Linked DNA regions of Homo sapiens. The protein of the gene in region 1 interacts with the protein of each later gene in a pairwise test. Each region holds a gene or a part of one and is shown on either strand. Other genes may lie near its edges.

Region 1 (7,027 bases):
ACAAGAACAGTAAGATACTGCTGAAGTAAAAGTGTGACTTCTGAGGCTGGTTTATATATAAAAGCCATCGTTTCTATTTTGCTCTCTTGGATCACTAACACTGGGAGAAGCCAGCCACAATGTCATGAGGACATATGGGGAGGATCTGAGGCCTCCAGTCAATAACCATCACCAAGCTGTTAGCCATGTGAGGAAGTCACTTTCAGTGGGAACCCTCCAGCCAGTCAAGCCTTTAATGCATAGAATGAAGTCCTTAAATCCAACTTCCTGAGACTCTTGAGTAAGAACCACACAGCTAAAATATCCCTGAATTTCTGACTCACAGAAATTATGAAATAGTAAGTGTTTACTGTTCTAATTAAGTTTTGGGGTAATTTGTTATGCAGTAATAGGTTAACTAGTACACAGGTAGATACTATTATCCTCTTTTTCTAATGGGGACACTAAGGCAGATGAAATAAAAAGGTTAAACATACAGGCTCTAGAGGCAGAGTCTCTAAATTTGAATCCTGGCTACTCATATGGGAGATGGTATTTGTAAATAACAAGTATTGTTAATGTGTGTAAGTACTGACCAGGCTTTTTTTTTTTTTTTTTTTTTTGACAGAGTCTCGCTCTGTCACCAGGCTGGAGTGTAGTGGCACGATCTTGGCTCACTGCAACCTCCACCTCACGAGTTCAAGCGATTCTCCTGCCTCAGCCTCCCAAGTAGCTGAGACTACAGGTGCACGCCACCACACCTAGCTAATTTTTTGTATTTTTAGTAGAGACAGGGTTTCATCACATTGGCCAGGAGGGTCTCGAACTCCTGACCTCGTGATCCGCCCACCTCAGCCTCCCAAAGTGCTGGGATTACAGGCATAAGCCACGGCGCTCAGCCTGACCAGGCATTTTTAAAGGCAATCTGCCACACTTTGACCAAATAATTTCGCATCTAGAAATCAATGCTAGAGGTGCTCATGTAACTACTTCAAAGACAAAGGTACAAAGTATGTGCACTACATTGCTTTTTGCAATACTAAAAACTGAAAACCACCCTAAACATCCACAAAGGAGAAATGGTAAAATAAATTAATGTACATAAATTCATTTGAACATTATGCAATATAAATGAATATTTATAACTATGTTTGAGGAAAAAAAGCTAGTTGCTAATTAATTTTTTTAAACAAATAGTGTAGTTGTGTTCATGTATTATGTGTAAATGTATTTTTTGAAAAGACTAGAGGGATATACAGAGTCTACAGTGGTTCCTTAGACCGATGGCAAAAGCCATTCTCATTTTACTATACTTTATTTACTATAATGAGCCTGAATTACTTGAGTAATTTAGGGAAAACTGGACTTTCAAAGAGAAAAAGAGATTTCATTTAAAAGAAAAAGGTCTAAGGCAGTTCTAATACTACACGGCCTAATTAAAAAATAATAGCAGCAATTAAATTTTGGCAATCAACAATTAGCAAAATAAAGGAGATTCCCAAAGCCAAATGTGTACTAAAGGATTTCTTATGTTTACACTACAGGTAATGCTTTTTCTTTTTTGGTTCTTCGGTTCTTCTCCTTCCACTTGAGAAACTGGTACAGGCACCAGAGTATTTCCTGGGGAATTTCTGTCCCAAGGTAGGTTCCTGATATTTCTACAAATACAAATTTGATTTTAAAAATGTCAGCTGACTTCAGTACAAATAGGAAAAATCTCCTCACTGGACCCAAGGAATAAAATAATTTAGTACAGGAGATTTTTACAATTGAAACAATAACTGATAGCATAACATTAATTATGTGAGAAGAGGCAGGCACTATAACAAAGGCAATCCTCAAACTGGGGTTATGATCCAAAAGGCTATTATTTTAAATATATGATTTGAAATCCAAAACCCATTTGTCCCACAGAAATTAAGCCAACCAATTCATGCCAATTTAATCTATTATAAAATATATTCCTAACAGTATGATTTCAACAAGACCAAAAGAAACACAGGAATTTGAAAACTGAGTAAGCAGAATTCCCAAGATACCTGTAAGTTTCTATATAGGCAAAGAATGGATCTCGCCAGTGCACTAGCAAAAACAAGGTGCCTACCTAATTCAACCAGAAGTGTGTGGGGAATAATTGGTGAGAACAACTTTATCTACCTGTTTAAGCCTCCAGAATCTGTTCATGTATTGTCAGTCATTTGTAGCTGGTCTACCTCCTCGAAATAAGTTTATACAATGTTTACAAGTTTTATAAAGCTCATTCAGTTGTAAAATTAGCTTTCGTGACACTATAAAAAACATTTATTTATCTAAACTTACAGGGAACAGATGGTGTAGTGTCCTTCGTACGATTCACTGTGCCACAGTAGGGTTAAATTTAGCAAATTTCTTTCAGAAATTAACTGGAATCCTATACGGCATCTATCGCGGCAGGACCTTGTTCATTGATTTTACACACTGTTCAAAATTGCTGATTATGTCAATCTAAGAAAATGAGAATATCTCATTCATACAAACCTTTTAAAGAAAGAATAGTGAAATGATCGAAATAAAAACTGATGAAAGCAGGATTTGTTTAAAAACTGCAAAATTTATTTCTAATTTCACAATTCACTAAATATTTCCATGCCCATGATCTCACCTGATTTTCACAACTGTTAGGAAAGCAGTTCAATTATTATTACTCTCATTTTAATAAAGAGGAGAAAGACTTTTTTAAAAGTATTGTGCTTAAGGACAAAGCACAAGTACAAAGTTGTGAGGACTCCCTTTTAGGAACAGTATGGTGGATCTGAAAAGAGCAAGATGTGGAAAAAAGTAAACAGAATTAAGAGATACTCCTGAATTTTCTTGAGAAGCAGGGAAATAGGGCAGCAGCTAAAGAGGGATGTGGACACAAGGGAGTGTATCATTAAGATGGGGAAAAATGTTTGTATACCCTAGAAATGGGAAAAATCAGTGATGAAGAGAAAAGATCTGATGGAGTGATGTCCTTCACACATGACAGGGGATGAGGTACAGTGGAAAAGTGGAAGGACCTGCCTTAGATAGCACCGCCCACAATTCAGAACTATCTACAGTAAGAAGAGGCTAGCAGGTAGGTAGCTACGGTAGGACCTTGTAGACATTCTGTCTCGATTATTTCCAAATTCTCAATCAAATAAAGACTAGGGTCATCAAGTGAAAATAAGCAGGCTAGATGATATGAAAGCATCCTGTGGCAGTGGAAGAGTGACTGGACTAGTAAACTGTAAGACTGTCAGGTGCTGCATACTAAGGACCCAATTAAGGTTCCTTAGTGTGCCTTAATGTTCCTTAGTGCTCATGAACTTAAGTTCCTTAATGTTCATAAATTTAAGCAAGACAAGTCAATGTGGCTACAAGGTGCATCTCTGGCCACTCAGGTGCAAGTACAAACACTGAGTTGAATTTAATCACATTTGAGGCTTTCTAAGCAAGAACAATGGAGGGAGAGTGGTACCACATTGCCAAGCACTGTTAATATTATTTCAAAACCCATATACCAATAAGTTAGTACTTTCATACTAGTATTCTCATTTTACAGCAGAGGACCAAAAGGCACATACTGAGTAACTTGCCTGAGGTGACACAGCAAGTGGTACAGCCAACTGTACCTCTCAAAACATATCCTAATTCCATCTACTTCTCTACATCTCCACTCCTACTGCCCTGGTTCAAGCTGCAATTACTTAAAACTACTGCACAAGCCCCCTAACTGATGTCTCTGCTTTTCACTCTTGCCCACCCCACAGCATCAAAGTAACCTTTAAAAATCCTACAAGAAATATTTCTTGGCTAGGTGTGCTGGCTCATGCCTGTCATCCCAGCACTTTAGGAGGCTGAGGCAGGAGGATCACTTGAGGCTAGAAGTTGGAGACCAGCCTGGATAAAACATCAAGACCCCATCCCTACAAAAAAAAACTAAAATTAGCTGGGCGTGGTGGCATGCCCCCGTAGTCCCAGCTACTGGGGAGGCTTAGGGTGGAGGATCACTTGAGCCCAGGAGTTTGGGGCTGCAGTGAGCTATGATCATGCCACTGTACTCTATCCTGGGTGACAGAGCAAGACCTTGTTGAAAAAGGAAGGGAAGGAAGGAAGGGAAAGGAGTGGGGAAGGAAGGGAGGAAAGGAGGGAAGGAGAGGAAAGGAGAGGGAAGGGGGAAGGGAGGGAGGGAGGGAAGAAGGGAGGAAAGGAGGGAGGAAGGGAGGGAGGAAGGGAAGAAGGGAGGGAGGAAGGGAGAGAGGAAGGGAGGGAAAAAGAGAAAAGAGAGACAGAGACAAAGAAACAAAGATTTCTGTCCTGCTTGTAAATGTTTCCAAGTTTACCCTGAAAACCCCTAGCCTAACTCACTTGCCTAACTCACTCTCTTATCTCTTACCCAACTCACCCTTATCTCTTACCCATCACCTTAGCAATGCAGGCTTTTTTTCAGTACCCAAAACACATTCTTAAAGGTCTTTGCTCTAGCAGTTCCCTATAGAAAACATTCTCTTCATTCTCGAGTGCTCATTTTTACTCAGCTCTCAGCTTAAATGTCACCTTATTCAGAAAGGCCTTCAGTGACTAGTAAATTTAAAAGTAGCCACCCAGATCTCCTGAGCTCAGGAGTTCAAGACCACCCAGGGCAACATGATGAAACCCTGTCTCTACTAAAAATACAAAAAAATTAACCAGGTGTGGTGGGGCACACCTCTAGTCCCAGCTACTTGGGAGGCTGAGGCAGGAGAATCGCTTGAGCCCCAGAGGCGAAGGCTGCAGTGAGCCAAGATGGCGCCACTGCACTCCAGCTTGGGCTACAGAGTAAGACTGCATCTCAAAAACAAAACAAAACAACAACAAAAATGTAGCCACCCAGTGAAGTATTATCAAATACTTTATCCTATTTCAACTTTCTGCATAGCACTTACCATTACCTGGTTTTTAAAATGTATTTTTTGACAGTTTTATCCCACTAGAATGCACATACCATCACAGCAGGGCCTGACATCTAGTAAGTACACAGCAAATATTTATTAAATAAATAAATCAACATGCAAACACACTACGTTGGGGGATCACTGCTTTGCCAGTTCACCAAAAGAATATATTCAGTTCATTCAAAGATCTTTACTAAATGCCTACTGTGTGCACGGCATCAAAACAGCAAAAGTCTGGCAAAAATGTACCAGATTTCTCAGTTTCTTCCTGTATCTTGTTCTGCCAATATGCCAAGAACTCTTAATTTCACCTCTGTGATATAGTATTTTTAATACATTTACTACTCATTACCTTAATCTAGGAAGCTTGTATAATATGAAATTGTATCTAGCATGACTATATTGAAAATACAATAAACCACCACAGGAATACTTCACTAATAAATGATGGCTAGTAAATACTGTATAATACAGAGCAAGTACTAAAGCAATATACACACACAGTTTTTTTGTTTTTTTTTTTTTTTTGAGATGGAGTTTCGCTCTTGTTACCCAGGCTGGAGTGCAATGGTGCGATCTCAGCTCACTGCAACCTCCTCCTCCCAGGTTCAAGCGACTCTCCTGCCTCAGCCTCCTAAGTGGCTGGGATTACAGGCATGCACCACCATGCCCAGCTAATTTTCTATTTTTAGTAGAGACCAGGTTTCACCATGTTGGTCAGGCTGGTCTGGAACTCCTGACCTCAGGTGATCCACCCGCCTCGGCTTCCCAAGGTGCTGGGTAAAGCAGTATTTTATAACAATCACATTATAGAGGTAAACCACGAAATTAGGTAATTCTTCACAGCACACTAATATGCTATTTATAGATATTAAAACTGATGTCTTTGCAATTCTCTTAGCAAAAACATCCAATGTATATGTAGAATTTTAATGTCACTTATATACTAATCCAATCACATTTCAGCTTTTGCATTTAAAGTCTCATCTCAAATTTACTGAGTTTTGTTTTTAGTTGTTCAAGGCAAACAGTGTCAAGAGTTAGACTGCAGGATTAATTTGTATATCACATACTTTTTCTTGTCACCATTTCAGTGATGCAATAAAATACTGCACTGTATTTTTTTTATCTCAAAAGGTTTATTCCTAAATCTACCTTTCTTAATGTTTTTAAGCAACAGTAATATAAAACACTAATTGACTATAAAACTGAGCTTAAAAACTGTATTCCATTTCCCTCTAAATGTCCATCACACCATTAAACTTCAGAATTTTTTTTTTTTTTTTTTGAGACGGAGTCTCGCTTTGTCGCCCAGGCTGGAGTGCAATGGAGTGATCTCAGCTCACTGCAACCTCTGCCTCCTGGGTTCAAGCGATTCTCCTGCCTCAGCCTCCCAAGTAGCTGGGACTACAGGTGCATGCCACCACGTCCGTCTAATTTTTTGTATTTTTTTTAGTAGAGACGGGGTTTCACCGTGTTAACCAGGATGGTCTCGATCTCCTGACCTTGTGATCCGCCCACCTCGGCCTCCCAAAGTGCTGGGATTACAGGCATGAGCCACCACACCCAGCCTAAACTTCAGAATTTTTAAGAATTTCAGAGAAGCAGTGCTCTATCACACATCTCAAAATGCTTTAATATGTAGGCTACTTAAAAGTCTCCCACAATTTTTACAGTAAAAAACAAAAAAAGCACATAATGAAGAAAATCTCCTAGCAATGGTCTCCCTACCCCACACATACCACCTTCTCATTTTGTTTCTATATTGTTTGAATATTTTATAAGAAGGCTTGCATTACAATTGTAGAAACAAAAAGATCTTTGCAAAGATTAACACTAAAGGCAGTGGTCATGTAATGTATCACAGTAATAGTCAAGTAAATGGTACAAAATGCCTAATAAGTCTAAGAAAGTTTTGTTAAAACTAGGGCAAATAAAAACACCTTAAAACAAATTATCTTGCTCTTTCCATTTTGTATATCCCCCTACTCTATAGCCAATGAGCTTTGACTAAGTCAATAAGGCTCCCAGAAGCCCCAGACCACGTTCTACAGGTCCCTGTACTCCTCCAGTCCTGCCAGCAAAGCTCACTAAACATTTACTTGTTCAAC
Region 2 (7,027 bases), on another chromosome or scaffold:
ACATATGAAGTTTCTAAACTTTTAACAGGACTGGAAAACCAATGCAGAAATCTGCTCAGTAGACAACTTAAAATCTAAACCCAAACATATTTTGATAGATACAATATGCAAAATCTAACTTTACAACAGGAATAGTACTAATTCCTTGTCATTAACACCTTACTAGTACATTAATACCTTTACAAACAGCATCATATAATAGCATAATATTTCATCTTACTCCTCCATCCAGGATCTTTTGTGAGAGGCACTAATAAAGAACACTAGTTTTGGCGACGCTGTATCAAACATACACATAGTATAATGGTCTATTTTACTATGTTCACAAAACATCATTTATAAAGAAATTTTTATGAATTCAAAAATAGGTTGTTAGTAACATGATTACCTTTAAAGTATGGATTTTGATTTTCATTCACAATATTAATTCATTAATCTTAAACAGTAGTTTCATCTACAAAATGTTCTACAGCTTTTTCCTTTTTGAAAAGGAATAAAGGCAGTTAAGATACTCATAACTTCTAGTTAAACAACATCAATTTTGTTTCACAGTATTAATTAGTAGAGAACATTTTCAATTAAAGTGATATACAATTTACAAAAATAGAATGATTTATATATTGCAAAACATTGTCCTCCATTATGAAGAATATATATATACATGTGTGTATGTGTATATATGTGTATATATAAATATTTCTTTTAAATTTTACAATAGCCCTTATTCAAGTACTTTGGGATTCTCTTGAAATAATCACCTTGCTGTATATTGTAAATACATTTAAAAAGTAAGATTAATCTAAGAAAAGGATAAAAGTTTCAGTGTAGTTTGACTTAAAAAAAATCAACCACTTACTTGAGTAAAAACCTGACTGAATTCAAAACAGGTTCCGGTGCCATACTAAGTTCAAGAACTTTGTTAAAAATATAGATAAATTTAAGTGTCAAAGACTTAAACATTTTCCAATTTGCTAGCATTAGAGCAGAATTAAAAGATTGTATTAATCTATTAACTATCCAATCTTAATCCCCAGACAAAATTCATTTATCTAGTATTACTAATACACTAATATACAATATACCTGCTTACAAACACATAGGTAGCCATAAATAAAACTTTATTCTTTATTTCATTTACAAGCTACCAAATATTATGTATCGTACACAGTGCTGAACACTTAAATGGCTGTAGTCATGGAAGGATCCAGACTGAATGGAAAGCTGTTGAGAAAGAAAAGATAAAAGCAAAGTAATACTGCAACAGGAAGGTGGCAAAAGCATAGTTTTGCCATAATAAAATCAATTAGATTTGTGATTATACATCAGTTCCGGTTAAAATGTCTGAGCGCCATGCGATTTTCAGCTTTATTGTCTGCAGTCTGACTAAAGTCTGTATAGTCATTTTGTCTTTTGCAGTTATTAAAATAAAAAAAAGTTAAAAACTATAGCAGCAACAAGCAAACCCTGTGACAGGAAGGCAAGGGTTAAGAACTAAAAAGAGTTTATACAGTGTGTTCAGGGAAAGTGTGCAGTTTATCTTCCATCAGCAGGAGTTCGACTGAGGGACAACATGATTCGGGCAAATCGCTCACAGAGTTCATGCGTGGAATATGAAGGTAACTTCGGTGGCTCATGGAAACTTTTAATCTCCATAGAACAATCAAGCAGTTTTGGCAAAAAATCTGTCAGCTTTTCTTGGAGGTGTGCTGCAAATACAAACAATTAAATCTAACTAAAGATAGAAATTATTACACGATCATTGTCAACATGATTTACTAATATTAACTTACTCTAATAGGTAAGATAATTGCCATTTTGGGGAGACAAAAACATAAATGGCAACTGCAATGCACACAGCTTAGTTCATCAATATGGAAAAAGAGTAATCATGTGAATGTGAAAATATTAATACTTAATATTGTATTTAATATAAAAAATGGCAAGAATAAATAACATCTAATTCTAACTGCATTTAATCCGGACATCTCAGGTGCCTACTACCATTGTTTAAACTTACGTTCCATTTCTTGACCAAGGTAGGAACACCATCGATTTCTCATATCTTCTACAGCTAGTATATCCTTTTCTTCCATTTCATCCACCAGTAATAATGGCAAAAATGGGACAATAAACTCATTCATGATAATCAAACCATTGTTTACTTCTCGATCCTCTCCAGATTCGAAGAGTTCTGCGGCTTGCTCATTTAATTTCTTAATGCAATGCAGGAAAAAAAAAAGAATAGGTTTTTGTTTCCTTTTTAAATTAAGGATCTGTAAGTATTAATAAGGAAGACAACATAAATATGTTCACAAACAGTATTAGAACAAACGGTATTTAGAGAAAACAATCTCAACCTATCTAGAACTGAAAATCTCTCTTTAGAAAAAGCTATGCATATGGCAACAACAGAAACAAAAGCAACAGCGGTGGAGAAAACATTATTGTGTTTTTCAGTCATGTTTGGCTTATGCCGATCATCAACACAGGGGCCATTTTTTCTTCTCTAGAGATTAACTTCCCCAAATTATAAAATTGTATAAGCACTCAAAATAGTTTTAAAAATAAAGAAATTCAGAATCCATATTAATTTTTGAAAAACTCATCTCCATTAATGGCAACTGAATATATACTATTGTATTCCTTGATACAGAAATATAAAGGTAATCAATTCACTTTTCCCTTCAAAAACTTCCTACAGAGTCAACACCACGTGCCAGAAATTTCTGCAGATGCAGGGGCACTCAAGTGATTAATACAGAAAACTCTCATGGAGCTTACAATTTGGTACAAGGATTGGCAAACTTTTTCTGTGAAGGGCCAGACGAGGACTATTATAGGCTTTGAAGGCCATGAAGTTTCTGTTGCAACTATTCAACTCTGCCATTGTAGTACAAAGACAATAATACCCAATATATAAATGAATGTGCATGGCTATGTTTCAATAAAACTTATCTATAAAAACAAGTGGTAGGTGGAGCACAAGCCATAGTGTGCTGATCACTGATCTAGTAGAACAGAGAAATCCATGCAATAAGAAACATAAGAGATAAATACAGGTATAAGACCTATAATATTTAAGGGTTCTTATTTAAAATCTTATGTTTACAGCATGATAAACATGACTTTTAAGCTGAATTTCAAATAAAAAAAGTTATATATTTAGATTTACACCACATAATTCTTATGCAATTTATTTTGATTTTGGAAAGATGGTTGTGCTATTAAGTCCAACTTGGCCATGAATCAATTACCCAATTGATATGGTTAGGCTTTGTGTCTCCACCCAAATCTTATCTTGAATTGTAACCCCCAGGTGTTGAGGAAGAGACCTGGTGGGAGGTGATCAGATCATAGGGACAGTTTCCCCAGTGCTGTTCTTGTGACAGGGAGTGAGTCTCATGAGATCTGATGGTTTCATAAGCATCTGGCATTTCCTCTGCTTGCACTTCTCTCTCCTGCCACCATGTGATGAAGGTCCTTGCTTCCCCTTCACCTTCCGCCATCATTTTAAGTTTCCTGAGGCCTCCCCAACCATGTGGAACTGTGAGTCAGTTAAACCTCTTTCCTTTATAAATTACCCAGTCTTGTGTAGTATCTTTATAGCAGTGTGAGAACGGACTAATACACCAATCGTGAACAGATTAGCTAAATCTGTTAGCTTCACTTTCTTTATATTAATAATAGGGTATTTTATCTTCCAACCATAGGGGTTAAGAGAATAAAATGAGATAAATCTTCAAGTATTTACTACAATTTTTGGAAGTATGCATTAAATGATATATAAAATTTAATGACAAGTTTAATGTTAAGTTCACTGAATCAAAGAATGTCCTGGAAATCTCTTAAATAAAACATGTTCAAAGCCAACCTTGTTCCTCCTATTAGACTCCCTAATATTAAACGAAAAACTAGTAAGTTTGGCAGCTTTGACTCTTCCATTTCCTTCTTCCCACTCACCCAACAGCTATGACATGCCGATTTCATTTCCTTCACCATCATACCTACCGTACTACATGAGTTGAGGTCCTCACTCTCCGTCCCTTGACTTTCCCCTCTAAGGTTCTTGACTTCAATCTACTTCTTTCCTGTTCATCCTCTAGAATGCTATTATTATTACCAGAATTATTTTCTGAAAACAAACCTCATTATGCCAAACCTAATCAAACTTACACTGGTGCAAACTCATTTGAATGTCATCTAAGTTTCTTCATCATCTGACATCGACAAGTATTGTCAGCTTCATCACTTCCACCTTACCCCACTTCCTCATAACCTGGATAGCCACAGTGAATTTATCTTGATTTTCTGTTGTGTACTGGAATATTCTCCCTTCTCTATCATGAATAAAACTTCTATTTATCCATCAAGATCCAGACGAGGTTTACCTTGTCTCTTAAGGTTCTTCCCAAATATTTCAGGCATATCATTGTGCATATTTCTCATAATGGCACTTATTCCAGAACAAACAATTATGTCTCCTACCAGACTGAGTTTTCTGAGGACAGGAAGTACATCTTACTCATGTTTGTATCCCTCAGAACCTGACACTTTGTAAATATACAACGTGAAAAAATCTGAAAGGAACACTAAAGTAATCTTGACGAGGTTTCATTTCAATTCCTATGTAAAACAAATAACCAAATGTGGCTGGGTTACTACAAAAAATGATGAGAAACATTATACCATTTTTTGAAGGTTTCAGAGGAACCATCAGGTTTTGGTTCTATGTATGTTTAAAGTCAGCTATACTATTCTTGTACCTGAAAATTCAATTTTTTAAGTTAAACAAATTACTCTAATACATTCTATGTATATTCTTGTTTTTTTGAGACAGAGTCTTGCTCTGTCACCTGGTTGCCAGGATGGAATGCAGTGGCGCGATCTTGGCTCAAGGCAACCTCCACTTCCCAGGTTCATGCGATTCCCCTGCCTCAGCCTCCTGAGTAGTTGAGACTACAGGCGCACACCACCATATCCAGCTAATTTTTGTGTTTGTGTATTTTAGTCGAGATGGGGTTTCACCACGTTGGCCAGGATGGTCTCGATCTCCTGACTTTGTGATCCACCAGCCTCAGCCTTCCAAAGTGCTAGGATTACAGGCATGAGCTGCTGCGCCAGCCTGCATATTCTTATAGACTTACATAAAACATTTTTTAAGGCTTATCTATGCATCCCTTCCTCTCCCACCAAAAAAAGGAGTGGTAGTGTGATGACGAAATCTAAATACAGAAATGTAAACAAACTGATGCTATTTTAAGAACATTTCTCATTTATCACCTATAGTACTTGGGATTCATAAAGAGAAAAGAATAAAGTACTGAGTGTACTTTTCCATCTGAAGGGACTAGAACCAGTTTATAGACATCATCATGTTCTTATCCCCTCAGAGTTTATGGAGTCAATCACTTATATATGAGTCTGGAAAACTTGCCCAATGTCAGACAAAATGATAAGATCATACTATATGCATTCAACTTACTAGCAAACATTCTCTTCTATAATGTGATATCAATTCTTCATCATGTCCTCTGTATAAGCCTTTAGACAAGAGTTCTTTGTTATTCTGATAAGCACAGATGAGGAACAGCAAGGAATCTATATAACTTGAAAATTAAAAAGAAACATATAACATTAGTATTTCACCTTTGTAGAAACAAAGTCAGCTATAATTATGAAACATTTTAAGTATATGCTTAAGTTTTGATAATCTACATTATAATAAAAAATATCATCTGACGCAGTGTATGCTTGAGAGCGCCTTTTTAGCAACAGCAACATCTGAAACCCAGAGATAGTTATCTTAAAAGTAAAAAAAGAAGAGCTATAAATTAAGAAAAAATCTGGGAAAAGAGGCAATAACTGATAAAGTCAGATAGTTCTGTTTTCCTTGGTATTTATTTTCCTGATGTCTTCCATTTAAACTCAAAATTGGAGCTAATGTGAAAGCCAACAATCTAATTGTTTAACGCAATGTCACATTTATATGAAGTAAATGATCACAAACATCATTTGGTTTGTTCAATGACAACTTAGACAGGTTCTTTTCTATGTGCAGACAGTTTTAGTTACTGAGAAAAATGTAAAAAAAAAATAGAAATAAGAATATCTAAAGGAAATAGAGGAAGTGGACAATGAAAGATTTCTTCTAAATCTGGGAAACCTAGTGGAATAAAGCAAAAACAAAAAGCCTGCAAACATAAAAAAGCTGATAGAGGCCGGGTGCGGCGGCTCACACCTGTAATCCCAGCACTTTGGGAGGCTGAGGCAGACGGACCACCTGACGTAGGGAGTTCGAGACCAGCCTGACCAACATGGAGAAACCCCGCCTCTACTAAAAATACAAGATTAGCCGGGCATGGTGACACATGCCTGTAGTCCCAGCTACTCGGCAGGCTGAGGTAGCAGAATCCCGGGAGGTGGAGGGTGAGGTGAGCTGAGATCACGCCACTGCACTCCAGCCTGGGCAACAAGAGCAAAACTCCGTCTCAAAAAAAAAAGAAGTGATAGAATTAGGCATATGTGTTATATTAATGTAAGTCTAGATATTATGAAATTCAAATTAGGTTTTAAAAAGGGAAGAAAAGGGGCCAGGCACAGTCGCTCATGCCTGTAATCCCAATACTTTGGGAGGTGGTGGTGACAGGATCAGCTGAGGCCAGAAGTTCAAGACCTGCCTGGCCAACATAGTTGACACCCCCATCTCTACAAAAACATTAAAAAAAAAAAAATTAGCTGGGCATCGTGGTACATGCCTGTAGTACCAGCTACTCAGGAGGCTGAGGAGGAAGGACTTCTTGAGCTGAGAAGGTAAGAGGTTGTAGTGAGCCATGATCATACCACTGCATTCCAGCCTGCGCAACAGAGCAAGACCCCAACTCAAAAATACAAAACAAAACAAAAATGGAAGAAAAAAATATTTAATAAAGAATTACTTTTACCTCAAAACTATCCTTCTAACATGTCAAAATAAAAACTATATCTAGCCAAGTATTTGTATAACTGAAATAAAAAATATTATTTTAAA
Region 3 (7,304 bases), on another chromosome or scaffold:
AGATTGCACCACTGCACTTAATCCTACACAACAGAGCGAGACCCTGTCTCAAAACAAACAAAACAAACAAAGAAACAAACAAAAACCCTGGCAGATTATTGATGAAAAGGCATACACATTTATTAATGTGCACAGGGAGAACAAGAGAGTGATGATCCCAACCCCTCAACGGGGAGGGCAAGCTCATATTCCATCTTGAGGTTACTGAAAGAATGGGGAACATATCCCAAAACAGGATATAAGGGTAAATCATATGGTGGCCAGCAGTTATGGGATGGAGAGAAGCAGAAGCCTGGCTAGCCACAGTGGTCTTGTTAGGTCATTGAAACCATGCAGGTAGCAGCCTTCAGAGACACAATAGGTAGTAAATGTTTCCTTCAGGCTTCAAACGTTGTCAGACTCTCAGCTAATGTTTCCTAGATCTGGGGAAGGGAGGGCTCCAAAGAAAGCCGGGCTGCCTCAGTGTAGATTTTCTCTGCAGATGCAAATCTTTCCCACAAAAGACAGCTTTCCTTCTATTCTTGTATTTCCAACCCTTCCAAAGAGGTATCTTATTTGTTTTTTTTCTTTTTTATTATGAAGTGGTATCTTAAAATACGTCAAAGAAGTTTAATTAATTAATTTATTTATTTTTGAGACAGAGTCTCACTCTGGTGTCCAGGTTGGAGTGCAGTGGCTTGATCTTGGCTCACTGCAACCTCCACCTCCCGGGTTCAAGAGATTCTCCTACCTCAGCCTCCCAAGTAGCTGGGACTACAGACGTGCGCCACCACACCCAGCTAATTTTTGAATTTTTAGTAGAGACAGGTTTTCACCATGTTGGCCAGGCTGGTCTCGATCTCTTGACTTCGTGATCCGCCCGCCTAGGCCTCTCAAAGTGCTGGGATTACAGGTGTGAGCCACCACACCCGGCCTGGATTACTTCTAAAACTATGAAAAGTAAAGTGTAGTTAATTTTTAATTTTGTTTAGAGATAAGGTCTCACTATATTGGCCAGGCTGGGATTACAGACACACGCCACCAAGCCCAGCTAATTTTTGTATTTTTAGTAGACACGGGGGTTTTTCTATGTTGCCTAGGCTGGTCTCGAACTCCTGACCTCATGCAATCCGCCCAACTCTGCCTCCCAAAGTGCTGGGATTACAGGCGTCAGCCACCACGCCTGGCCAGAAGTGTATATTTTGAGGTGAAGTGAAATATTTTGGTTTCCTTCGAGGGGATTGTTAGTTATCTTGCTGTGGTGTGGCCTTAGGAGATGCATTCTTTTCTGTTGTTTTTGCCACCTTCCTTGTTTGCCTGTGTTGGGCACATCGGGGTCTGATGATTAATAGGCTGATTTTCACTTTCAACGTAGAGACTACAGAAAAGTCGAACTTAAGGGCTTATGAAAAACTGCCTATGGAAACTCAGAGTTTAATATGTTGCATCTGAGTGGACAGTAGGCCTTATGGGGAAAAATAATTAAATACACTCTGAGGCCCGGCATGGTAGTTTATGCCTATAATCCCAGCACTTAGGGAGGCCAAGACAGGAGCATCACTTGAGCCCAGGTGCTGGAGACCAGCCTGGCCAATATAGTGAGACCTCATCCCTAAACAAAATTAAAAATTAACTACACTTTACTTTTCATAGTTTTAGAAGTAATCCAGGCCGGGCGTGGTGGCTCACACCTGTAATCCTAGCACTTTGAGAGGCCTAGGCGGGCGGATCACGAAGTCAAGAGATTGAGACCAGCCTGGCCAACATGGTGAAAGCCTGTCTCTACTAAAAATACAAAAATTAGCTGGGTATGGTGGCGCACGTCTGTAGTCCCAGCTACTTGGGAGGCTGAGGCAGGAGAATTGCTTAAACCCGGGAGGCAGAGGTTGCAGTGAGCCGAGATCGCGCCATTGCACTCCAGCCTGGTGACAGAGCAAGACGGTCTCAAAAAAAAAAAAAAAAGTAATCCTCAGAAGCTAGGATATTCCTTATTTCTCAGCCTTAAAATAGAAGGCTCTATTTACAAGAGCCTTCTTTCGGGCTCTCCCTTCCCCAGACCTGAGAGAGATTAACTGAGAGTCTGACAACTTGAAAAGTCTGAAAGAAACATTTACCACCTATTGTGTCTCTAAAGGTTACTACCTGTGTGGTAGCCTTTATTTGCCACAATATGGATAAACCTGCAGGACATTATGCTAAATGAAATAAGCCAGACACAAAGAACAATACTACATTATCTCACTTATACGTGAAGATGTGAAAAAGTTGAATACATAGCAACAGAGTAGAACAGTGGTTTACCAGGAGTGGAGTGGGGAATGGGGACATCAGGTCAAAGGGGACAAAGTTGCAGCTGTGTAGGATGAATAAGTCTAGAGATCTAATGTACCACATGAAGACTATGATTTTTTTTTTTTTTTGAGACGGACTCTCGCTCTTGCCCAGGCTGGAGGGCAGTGGCGTGATCTCAGCTCACTGCAAGCCTCACCTGCCGGGTTCACGCCATTCTCCTGCCTCAGCCTCCCGAGTTGCTGGGACAACAGGCACCCACCACTATGCCCAGCTAATTTTTTGTGTTTTTTGAGTAGAGACGGGCTTTCACCGTGTTAGCTAGGATGGTCTCGATCTCCTGACCTTGTGATCCGCCCGCCTCGGCCCCCAAAGTGCTGGGATTACAGGTGTGAGCCACCGTGCCCGGCGGAAGACTATGATTAATGTTAATAGATAATATTGTATTGTATACTGGAAAATTGCTAAGAGTAGAGCTTGGGTTTTTACCACAAACACATACACAAAATATTCATGTGAGGTGATATGCTAAATCTGCTTGACTGTAGTAATCACTTCACTAGGTACATGTATATTAAAACAATGTTTTACACCTTAAATACATACAATTTTAAAGACGCATTAAAAAAAAAGCTAGGATATTCCAGACATATTTTGTTACTCATTATGTATTCACTGCAGTGTGAAAAGCACAATGCAAAGGGGTTTTTTTTTTTTTTTTTTTGCTTTTTGTTTTTTTTTTTTGAGATGGAGTCTAGCTTTGTCGCCCAGGCTGCAGTGCAGTGGCTAGAGTGCGGTGGCGCGATCTCGGCTCACTGCAAGCTTCGCCTCCCGGGTTCACTCCATTCTCCTGCCTCAGCCTCGGAGTAGCTGGGACTACAGGCGCCCGCCATCATGACCGGCTAATTTTTTTGTATTTTTTAGTAGAGACGGGGTTTCACCGTGTTAGCCAGGATGGTCTCAATCTCCTGACCTGGTGATCCGCCCCCCTCGGCCTCCCAAAGTGCTGGGATTACAGGCGTGAGCCACCGCGCCCGGCCAGTACAAAGGTTTTTAAACAGATTCTCATTTAACTTTCACAGCCATCTCTGAAGTAGGTACTATTATCTATTACTATTATTATTATTTTGAGACGGAATTTCATTCTGTCGCCCAAGCTGGAGTGCAGTGGCGCGATCTCGGCTCACTGCAACCTCCGCCTCCCGGGTTCAAGGAATTCTCCTGCCTCAGCCTCCTGAGTAACTGGGACTAGCCACTACACCCGGCTAATTTTTGTATTTTTAGTAAAGACGGGGTTTCACCACGTTGGCCAGGCTGATCTCGAACTCATGACCTCAGGTGATTCGCCTACCTCAGCCTCCCAAAGTGCTGGGATTACAGGCGTGAGCCACCGCGCCTGGCCTATTATTATTATTATTGTCGTTTTTACAGAGGAGAAAGCAGGAGCACCAAGAGGTAGGATAATTTGCTAGAAGACCCATGGCTTAGAAAGGGAAGCCTGGAGATAAGGGGACCAGCCCTCTAGAGCATTGCTCAGCCAAAATACTTGGCCAAGATCACATCTCTGATACCAGGAATGAGATAACCTTTATTAAGTGTTTACCATGTACCAGGCACTAAGCTCAGTGATTTCTAAGGACATCATATAATCCTCACAGCAACCATATGTGGGTCTGCTGTCATCCTTATTCGAGAGAGGCTGAAACGGAGGCTCAGATAGAACAAGTACCTAGCTCAAATATTACTAGAGAAATGGGAAAGTGCAGATTCAAACCCAGGTCTTCCGACTGCAAGTCCCTAGTCCCCAGCCCCAGCTCCACTATATCAGCCTCTGCTAGGAAGAAAGCCGCTAACTATGGACTTTCGTCGCCGGGGTTTCGAGCCTAGGACACACCTGTACAGACCCCCGTTTGCCCCGCCCCTTTCCGGAGGAGACGTCCCCTCCACCAATGAGCGGCGCCGTGGGCGGGCCGCGGGCGCGCATGCTCTGGGCCCGCAGTTGAAGTGGCGAGAGCGCTCAGATACGCGACGCGTAGCAGGCGGGGACCGAACGGGTGCCTCAGTGTCCTTCCCCTCCCCTCGCCTGGCCTCGCCGTCCTCTCCCCGCAGCCGGACCGGAACTATGTGATCCCGGAAGTTCCGGGGCCTTTGCTGTGTGGGATAAACAGTAATGGCGGAGGCTGCAACTCCCGGAACAACAGCCACAACATCAGGAGCAGGAGCGGCAGCGGCGACGGCGGCAGCAGCCTCCCCCACCCCGATCCCCACAGTCACCGCCCCGTCCCTGGGGGCGGGCGGAGGGGGCGGCGGCAGCGACGGCAGCGGCGGCGGCTGGACTAAACAGGTCACCTGCAGGTAGGACGTTGCGCGGCGGAGCGCCGGGCGCGGGGAGGGGGCCGCGGGCCAAGCCTGCGGCGCGGGAGGGAGGAGGGCGGCCGGCCTGCGGCTAGAGGCGCGGGAGGGCGGGGACCGGCGTTGTCTCGATCTCTGCAGCCCTCGCGGCCCCCGCTGCCGCCGCGTTCCCCCAGTCACTGCGTCAACCCCCGCTGGGCCGCGGAGCCCTCAGCGCTGTCCGCGGAGGCCTGGCGGTGCGCGATTACTGCGGAGCCGCGGGGCTGCACCGCCGCTTACACTTCCCTGAGCGCTGCCTGAGCTGGCTGCGAGCGCATCGGGGAGAGGTGGGCTGGCTCCTCCCCTGCCGCTGGAAGGATGCCCCCGCCGCTGCCTCCGGCTCCCGGGGCTCGGGAGGTGGTCACTTGAGGCCGGTCTCCCAGCGATCCTCTCCGGGCCTAGACACCCCGCCGAGGGCCCCAGCGAGCTTGCCTGGCTCCCGGCCCTCTCCTCTCTCCGTGCCATCCGTTTGTAACGTCTTTTCACGTCCCTCCGTCCCTCCGCCCCCCATCCTCCGCCCAACTGTGAGAAGAAGCTTTTGTATTTCTTCTTTGTATGTTTGTCGAGGTTGGCGGTGCTGAGCTTTGTCTTAGAAGCAGGCGTTCGGGGGCCGGGGTCGTCTTCTCCACCCGCGGTTTTTTTGAGCTGCAGATTATTACCCTCCCCCAGCGCTATGTTCCTCTTTTGAAATTTACGCATCTTCCGAAGGGAGTGAAAGGGCTCTTCGCTCCCGGAAGAGAGAGAGGTTTGGTTTTGGTTTGATATGCGAGACGAAAATATTAGAAAAATTAAGGGATGGCGGTTGTATGGATGTGTATGGTTGTAAAAAACTACCTAGCTCTACGCAGAAGAGGGCATTTAATTGTACGTTTTTTATTTTCCGGTTTTTAAATAGTGATCAGTAGCGACTGTAAGCTTTTCTTTTTCTATCAGTTGAATAAATCAACTGAAATGCCGGTTTTCACCTGGGTGGTATAATTTATATGCAAGTATGTAAAAATGATTCCTAATTAGAACTTGTAGTATTAAGGGTGAAATTTGAAACCTTCCCAGTCTTTGATGTGATACATTTATCCTGGCGACCTTCGAAGGTCTCTCAGCCTTTGATATGATACATTTAAGGTGTGAAGGATAAGCTTAATTATTTTACATAATGGGATGTAGAAAGCATAAACGCAATTTCAGGTCACTTGTCTTATTCATCGGTGGATTGTAAAAGTGGAATATTGCCAGGAATGATGATTTTAAAGTTTCTACTCATGGAGCAAATTATTTGAATATCTGTTTCCCTTTTACAATGCTACAGTTGATCTATATGTGCTAGTTACATCTTTTAAAAGATTGAAACCGGCCTGTCGGGGTGGCTAGGTCGGCGTGGTGGCTCACGCCTGTAATCCCAGCATTTTGGGAGGCTGAGGCGGGCGGATCGCCTGAGGTAAGGAGTTCGAGACCAGCCTGGCCAACATGGTGAAACCCTGTCTCTACTAAGAATACAAAAATTAGGCCGGGCACAGTGGCTCACACCTGTAATCCCAGCACTTTGGGAGGCCAAGGCAGGTGGATCACGAGGTCAGGAGCTCAAGACCAGCCTGGCCAAGATGGTGAAACCCCGTCTCTACTGAAAATACAAAAAACATTAGCCGGGCGTGGTGACAGGCGCTTGTAATCTCAGCTACTCCGGAGGCTGAGGCAGGGAGTTGCTTGAACCCAGGAGGCAGAGGTTGCGGTGAGCCAATATCACACCACTTCACTCCAGCCTGGGCGAAAGTGAAACTCTGTCAGAAGAAAAACAAAAAAGAAAAAGAAAGAAAAGAAAGAGCTTAGATTTACTAGTTTTTGGGGGTTTTTTGTATAGCTTTTGCTTGAGACAGTTTTTTATTGTTGTGCAGATTCCTTGATAGGTCTGGGGTTTTAGTGTTTGACATTGTTTTCGGTTGTTCTAGGTACCAACATGATCTCTTACTTAAAACTATTTTCTCCTTTAGATAGAGGAATGTCAACTATCATTTTTTTTTTTTTTTTTTTGAGACAGAGTTTCCCTCTTGTTTCCCAGGTTGGAGTGCAATGGTGTGATCTCTACTTACCACAACCCCCGCCTCCCAGGTTTAATTGATTCTCCTGCCTCAGTCTCTGGCATTACAGATGCCTTAGTAGCTGGGATTACAGGCGTGCACCACCATGCCCACCTGACTAATTTTGTATTTTTAGTAGAGACGGGCTTTCTCCGTGTTGGTCAGGCTGGTCTTGAACTCCCGACCTCAGGTGATCTGCCGGCCTCAGCCTCCCAAAGTGCTGGGATTAGAGGCGTGAGCCACCGCACCCGGTCTATGATCCTTATCGTTCACTTTGAGCTCTCTGAGAAGAGTAGGGCCCTATTTTATCTGCAGGGCTTTCTTTCCTCAGTTCCTCAGTTTCTTTCCTCAGTTCCAGTATCATGAACAGGATACTCAGTTACTGAGTATCCTGAGCAGATACTGAGTAAATGCTTGAGTGATGTTGATAAAGTCATATACCTAGAATTACCCACTTTAACAGGAACTTTGTAAGATTCCTCTGCTTTCATTAAAAAAAAAAAAAACAAAACTTGTAAATTACCAAAGACAAAGTACTTAACAGAACACATGTGTATCTTCCTTTTTTTTTTT
Region 4 (7,135 bases), on another chromosome or scaffold:
AACCTATGGATTTGAGACCAGCCTGGGCAGCATGGCAAAACACTTGTTTCTAAAAAAAAAAACCACGGCTGGGCGCAGTGACTCACGCCTGTAATCCCAACACTTTGGGAGGCTGAGGAAGGGTGGATCACCTGAGGTCAGAAATTTGAGACCAGCCTGGCCAACATGGTGAAACCTCATCTCTACTAAAAATACAAAAATTAGCCAGGCATGGTTGTGGGCGCCTGTAATCCCAGCTACTCGGGAGGCTGAGGCAGGAGAATTGCTTGAAGCCGGGAAGCAGAGGTTGCAGTGAGCCAAGATTGCACCACTGCACTCCAGCCTGGGCAACAGAGTGAGACTCCTTCTCAAAAAAAAAAAAAAAGAAAAAAAATTAGCCAGGCATGGTGGCATGCACCTGTGGTCCAGCTACTTGGGAGGATGAGGTGGAAAGATCACTTGATCCTGGGGAGATCAAGGCTACAGTGAGTTGTGGTTGCACCACTGCACTCCAACTTAGGCAACAGTGAGACACTGTCTCAAAAAAACAACAAAAAAAAGAGCTTATTTTTTAAATACTTTATACTCTATTATAAACTCTATATTAAAATGTTTTAAAAAAAAAACATGTTTTTGATAGTAGGGATGGTGTCTCACTATGTTGCCCCAGCTGATTTTGAACTCCTGACCTCAAGGGATTCTCCCTCCTGGACCTCCCAAAGTGTTGGGACTGCAGGCCAGAGTCACTGTGTTCAGCTTGATGTATTATTTAAAAACTGATGAAAAGATAAGCTAGGATAGAATTTAATTAAGTGGTTTGTTTTCCTCTAAAATTGAATCTCAGCTGAGAAAGAAATTTGGAAAGGGACTGTTAGATATGTTCACTCACCTTTACTCCATAAGATTTTTTTAATCACCTAATTCGATCAGGTGGATCTACTTTCTTCACCTGTCTCACATTTGCCCGTGAATTCTCTATGTGTAGAAACAAAATTAATTTCTTTACAAGATCTATTAAAAATCTGTTGAAATTAACAGATTGCTGTGTGTATTGTGAGAGAATGGAAGCAACCAACAAATATTTTGGATGTCCAAACTACAGAAACATCCCTCAACTTGGAATCTACCAGTTCCTGATTTTAAAGATGGCAAAAGAACGGAAACTATAACCCTGCATGCTGTGTGGTTTGCATTGTTAACCCAAGTTTGCTTGTCTGTTTCCTAATTCACACAGAGCGTCAGAAGCCATGATGCATGTAGTGTGTGTGTACTGCAGCTGGAGTGGGCCCCAGACCAGGTATTTATAGACACCATGTTAAGCCTTCCATCCAGTTGTCATCTGTGATCTGACAGTCTGTATCCGCAGCAGTTTGGGAAGTTAGCATTTGTCATTCACCATTTCACCTTGTTCAATCTGGTTACAACTAGCCTATATGCATTTGTATTTTGGCATGCATACATGGATATGTAACATAAACTCCTGTTTAAAAATGGATTCGTTATTAGAACCATCCAACAGGGAGAAAATCCCAGTTAAAACAGTGTCTATTATATCTACCCCATCTTGGCTACTATAAATATCACATCAAGAATATTGGCCTCACAACACTTTGTTGTTGGAGATAACTATGCTTTCATGGGTTTCATAAGTGCCTTTCCTCTGAAAAACTGAAAGCTGTTCTTTTACATTACTGCATACAACTACCTGGAGTTATAGAGGGTTAGAAATTTTAATTTTGTTGAAGAAGAAATGGAAACTTAGGCCAGAGGACTTGTCAGGGGTGACTCTGAACAACAGGAACTAAGACTTTGCTTTTCCTTCTGTCTCTGGCCTGACAGATTTTCAGGAAGCACTCTGCTTCCATTTCCTCTGATGTAAATAATGGTAAACATCAGCTCGAATACATTGGCTGACTTACTAAGAGGAGGAAAGATGGTCTTTTAAACCAGCATCATAAGACTTTGTAGGAGTTTGCAAGCTGGTTGGAATTAGATACATAGCATTTAGTTTCTCTTCTTTCTTTCCTTTTTCTTTTCCTTGTAAGGATAGGTTAAAAGCAGGCATAGTTGAATTATTCTTAATATCCACTGTCCTCATCCTCTTCTCCTGTCATTCTGTAAACTGACCTAGTCCTCCCCTACGTTTAGGACTTAGGCTAGTGAAACTGACCTTCTCAGCTACAAGAGGACTATATGCTACTTTTTTAGTACAAAATTCATTGAGGGTGTGTTCACCTTGACCTCACTTGTTTATAACTAACACACAAATACCAGAAGGCCCTTACCATACCTCTTTATGTTGCTTACATGGATATTTCACTACAGTGCATTGTTTCTGTTAACATTAGTTCAAAATTCAACCTCTTCCAGAGTCAGCCTTAGTTTTAAATAAAACTAATAACTGTTAGACATCTGGTGGTATGAAAATAAAAAAACTAATAACTGTGTTTCTAGACTCTAATGGGTATAGCCTAAACTGAGATAAGTGCAGTTTTCCTTTTTACTCCTAAAGTGTAAGTAAGGTAAGATTGTTTCATGGGAAGTCAATAGCTTCCTGAAACAATGCTTTGTCTTCTCATGCTGTTAACCAGTAGTTTATTAGAATGATTTAAAGCCTTTTGAATATAACTGCTTTGCTGCTTTTTAAGATCAAGCCCTCTTGTTGGATGTTAACATTTAGTACTGAGCATTTGAGTTGCATCTGTCCTAATAATAGATTGTATTTTGAAGTCATTTTTGTTACTGACCTTTTGATTTTTATTTTTTATTATTATTATTTTTTATTTTGACTGAGTTTCACTCTGTCACCCAGGCTGGAGTGCAGTGGTGCAGTCTTGGCTCACTGCAACCTCTCCCTCCTGGGTTCAAGCAATTCTCCCACCTCAGCCTACCTAGTAGCTGGGATTACAGGCACCCACCACCACGCCTGGCTAATTTTTGTATTTTTAGTAGAGATGAGGTTTCACCACGTTGGCCAGGCTGGTCTCGAACTCCTGACCTCAGGTGATCCACCTGCCTCGGCCTCCCAAAGTGCTGGGATTACAGGCATGAGCCACTGTGCCCAGCCCTTTTTGATTTTTAATTAAAGATCTTACAATGGTCGGGTGCGGTGGCTCTTGCCTGTAATCCAAGCACTTTGGGAGGCTGAGGCGGGCGGATCACCTGAGGTCAAGAGTTTGAGACCACCCTGACCAACGTGGAGAAACCTCATCTCTACTAAAAATGCAAAATTAGTCGGGTGTGTGGCGCATGCATGTAATCCCAGCTACTCTGAGGCAGGAGAATCGCTTGGACCCGGGAGGCGGAGGTTGCGGTGAGCTCAGATGGCGCCATTGTACTCCTGTCTGGGCAACAAGAGCAAAACACAGTCTTAAAAAAAAAAAAAAATTCTTACACTTACATGCGTAGAGGTCAATTTTTAACTGGATTGGTGGCAAAAGAAGAGCTGGAAATGATGTTTAATGATACTATGATGCTTACACTGAGCCGTCTTGTTTGGGTGGTCTAAGGTAGCAGTGAATCTAAATAGTCATTGCCAGTTGAAAAACTATTAATGAACCATCTCCCTCCACATTCCCCTTTCTTTAAAACATTTAAATATTCTTAACTTAGTTGCACACTATTGATGTGATAAAAACTTATAAGCCTTTTAAGTTTAGAGTTGTATTATTTGGTAGGATGATGATTGTGATTTAATCTGCTGATCATTAGTTTACTTTTGTTTTCTGAGTCAGATGCTCACCCAGTTTTACCATGATTTTTGGAAAGCTTGGCTAGAAATAAAATAGAACATTTGCTTCTCTGTCCCCAAGCATTATGTTATTTCTTATTTCTCTTTATAATTCCCTCTCTGTCCAGGTATACCTGGTTTAAGACTTCTCATTTGTAACCTCAGTGTTCACATTTGAAACAAGAAAAGTGCATTAACATGAGAATCATTCTGGTGCAAAGATTCTCAGGATTTGTAATATCCTTAAGAATCACCCAAGGAGCTTATTGAAAATGCACATTCCTGGATTTACTCTCAAGTATGGTACCCCAGGGTCTGCATACTTCACAAGCGTCCCTGGTGGTTTTAGGGCAAGTGGTGAAAAAAGTACACTTGGAGAAACTATTCTAGAGTTGTAGACTAGACTAGGGAATAAAGAAACATAAATGTCCTTCATTCCTGAGCACTAACCCCGCCATTATGTGAATGCATATTAATGGATACTTAATCACATTGAATTACAGTATGCAGATTTTATTAAGAACATGTCTACCTCTTATTCTGATGCTGTGAATGTCTACCACAATGAGAAAGTAATTTTAAAATCATTTCTATTTGTGTAAGAGAAACCCGAGTTTGAGGACCTTATTTTATTCTACGCTGTTTAGATTTGTATCCTCTGGTAATTTAGTGGCATTAGTCACCTGCTAATTAATCTTTTTCCTTTCCCCTGTGTTCCATATAGAGAAAAGTGGTAAAGAATCTACCTCACTGGGAATGTCATCATTACCAACTTCAGATGGGTTTAACCATCCCGCCCGTTCTTCAGGACAGAGTCCTGATGTTGGTAATCCTATGAGTCTTGCTCGCTCTGTCTCTGCTTCAGTCTGCCCTATCAAGCCCAGTGACTCAGATCGCATTGAACCTAAAGCTGTGAAGGCTTTGAAGGCTTCAGCTGAATTCCAGCTAAACTCTGAAAAGAAAGAACATCTTTCTTTACAAGATCTTTCTGATCATGCTTCCTCAGCAGACCATGCTCCAACAGACCAGAGTCCAGCTATGCCTATGCAGAATTCATCCGAAGAAATAACTGTTGCAGGTAATCTGGAGAAATCTGCTGAAAGAAGCACCCAGGGCCTCAAATTTCATCTCCATACAAGACAGGAAGCTAGTTTATCTGTCACATCTACTAGGATGCATGAACCACAGATGTTTCTAGGTGAAAAGGATTGGCATCCAGAAAATCAGAACCTGAGTCAAGTGAGTGACCCTCAGCAGCACGAAGAACCAGGGAATGAACAGTATGAGGTTGCACAACAAAAAGCTTCACATGACCAAGAATATCTTTGTAACATAGGGGACCTTGAGCTTCCTGAAGAAAGGCAACAGAATCAACACAAAATTGTTGATTTGGAAGCTACGATGAAAGGAAATGGGCTCCCACAGAATGTGGATCCTCCAAGTGCGAAGAAAAGTATTCCATCTTCAGAATGCAGTGGCTGCTCAAATTCAGAAACATTTATGGAAATCGATACAGCTCAACAGTCCCTAGTTACTTTGCTTAATTCAACAGGCAGGCAGAATGCCAATGTCAAGAACATTGGTGCATTGGATCTCACTTTAGATAATCCCTTGATGGAAGTAGAAACATCAAAATGTAACCCTTCATCTGAAATTTTGAATGATTCCATTTCCACTCAGGATTTACAGCCCCCAGAAACTAATGTTGAAATACCTGGAACAAATAAAGAATATGGCCATTACTCCTCTCCAAGTCTCTGTGGCAGTTGTCAGCCTTCTGTGGAGTCAGCAGAAGAATCTTGCCCGTCTATAACGGCAGCCTTGAAAGAACTTCATGAACTTTTGGTTGTTAGCAGTAAACCAGCTTCAGAAAATACATCTGAAGAAGTAATCTGTCAATCAGAAACCATAGCTGAGGGCCAAACCAGTATTAAAGACCTTTCTGAAAGATGGACCCAAAATGAGCATCTTACCCAGAATGAACAGTGTCCACAAGTCTCCTTTCATCAGGCCATATCTGTATCAGTGGAGACAGAAAAATTAACAGGTACTTCATCTGACACTGGAAGAGAAGCTGTAGAAAATGTAAACTTCAGGAGTCTAGGTGATGGCCTGTCAACCGATAAGGAAGGTGTCCCCAAATCTAGGGAATCCATAAATAAGAACCGTTCTGTCACTGTAACCTCAGCTAAAACATCCAATCAGTTACACTGCACCTTAGGTGTAGAAATTTCACCCAAACTTTTAGCAGGTGAGGAGGATGCACTCAATCAGACTTCTGAGCAAACTAAGTCTTTGTCATCCAATTTCATATTGGTTAAAGACTTAGGTCAGGGCATACAGAATTCAGTAACAGACAGGCCTGAAACCAGAGAAAATGTCTGTCCTGATGCTTCGAGGCCATTACTTGAATATGAACCACCTACCAGCCATCCATCATCAAGTCCTGCCATTCTTCCACCATTGATTTTTCCTGCCACAGATATTGACCGCATTCTCCGTGCTGGCTTTACTTTGCAGGAAGCTCTTGGAGCTTTGCATCGAGTTGGTGGGAATGCAGACCTTGCACTTCTTGTTTTGCTCGCAAAAAACATCGTAGTTCCTACATGACTGTGGGAAAGTGGGCTAGACCGTTCTCCATTCCCTTTAAACAAAAGAAAGCTCTCTCTATATACACGCACACATACACACTCACCACATATACAGTATATATAGAAACCTGCAAGCAGAATGTTGAGCCAGATTTTTTTTAAAGATTTTTTTCGGCCAAAGTAATTTATGATCTTTTGTCTGATGAATTTGTCTATCCTACTTGTTAAAATTTAGGCCTTTTTAAATGTATTGGCAGTATGTGCATACAGAAGCTTTTTATTCTCATTAAGATGTATCCTGGAATAAAATGGATGGTTTTGTGTGTAGCATACTGTTTTAGAATGAGAGTAAATGCTTTGAAAAGCAGAAGCCATGAGAAATCCCACTACCCATCCAGCTAAAAACAGATGAACTCTCCACACTGTGACTGTGTGTCTGTGCTGATGGCAAGGTATGGTTTGCTGGCTCAGTTGTCAATTTAGAAACTTTTGACCACATAATTTGGTGTTTGGAATTCTACCCAGTGCTCTGTGTATCATGATTCATTAATTATAACAGGAAATTGGAGAATAATTGAATATCTTATCGTAGAGTGGTATGTTTTTATTTGTGTGCTTAGGATTTGACATTTTAATAGGGCGAGCAGGAGGGTTTAAATCTTGGGCTACTTTGTGCATCACAGGCTGCTGCATGGATTGCCATGAATCCTTATTACATTGGATGGGATATTGTGGGGGAGTTACAATGCAAGTGAAACGTGGTGCTACCCAGATTCTTAAAAGAACAGAACAACCATAATTCCATTTGCAGATGTCAAGAACTGTGAGGGAAAAA

The links.
Region 2: the proteins of RAD23B (region 1) and USP25 interact in binary tests that used the Homo sapiens proteins (3 or more experiments, as listed by UniProt).
Region 3: the proteins of RAD23B (region 1) and MKRN1 interact in binary tests that used the Homo sapiens proteins (3 or more experiments, as listed by UniProt).
Region 4: the proteins of RAD23B (region 1) and RSC1A1 interact in binary tests that used the Homo sapiens proteins (3 or more experiments, as listed by UniProt).

What each region holds. Positions count from the first base shown.
Region 1 is NC_000009.12:107,286,252-107,293,278, reverse strand, and holds part of RAD23B (UV excision repair protein RAD23 homolog B), read right to left. Parts: intron 1-7,027. UniProt on the Homo sapiens protein: Multiubiquitin chain receptor involved in modulation of proteasomal degradation. Binds to polyubiquitin chains.
Region 2 is NC_000021.9:15,872,982-15,880,008, reverse strand, and holds part of USP25 (ubiquitin carboxyl-terminal hydrolase 25), read right to left. Parts: intron 5,607-7,027; coding exon 5,483-5,606; intron 2,214-5,482; coding exon 2,018-2,213; intron 1,707-2,017; coding exon 1,534-1,706; 3' UTR 1-1,533. UniProt on the Homo sapiens protein: Deubiquitinating enzyme that hydrolyzes ubiquitin moieties conjugated to substrates and thus, functions in various biological processes including inflammation and immune response.
Region 3 is NC_000007.14:140,476,479-140,483,782, reverse strand, and holds the start of MKRN1 (E3 ubiquitin-protein ligase makorin-1), read left to right. Parts: upstream 1-4,277; 5' UTR 4,278-4,438; coding exon 4,439-4,623; intron 4,624-4,794; exon of another isoform or gene 4,795-4,946; intron 4,947-5,120; exon of another isoform or gene 5,121-5,183; intron 5,184-5,385; exon of another isoform or gene 5,386-5,404; intron 5,405-7,304. UniProt on the Homo sapiens protein: E3 ubiquitin ligase catalyzing the covalent attachment of ubiquitin moieties onto substrate proteins. These substrates include FILIP1, p53/TP53, CDKN1A and TERT.
Region 4 is NC_000001.11:15,655,404-15,662,538, forward strand, and holds RSC1A1 (regulatory solute carrier protein family 1 member 1), read left to right. Parts: upstream 1-4,309; 5' UTR 4,310-4,465; coding exon 4,466-6,319; 3' UTR 6,320-6,630; downstream 6,631-7,135. Other genes in the region: DDI2 (protein DDI1 homolog 2), read left to right, coding at 1,214-1,230. UniProt on the Homo sapiens protein: Mediates transcriptional and post-transcriptional regulation of SLC5A1. Inhibits a dynamin and PKC-dependent exocytotic pathway of SLC5A1. Also involved in transcriptional regulation of SLC22A2.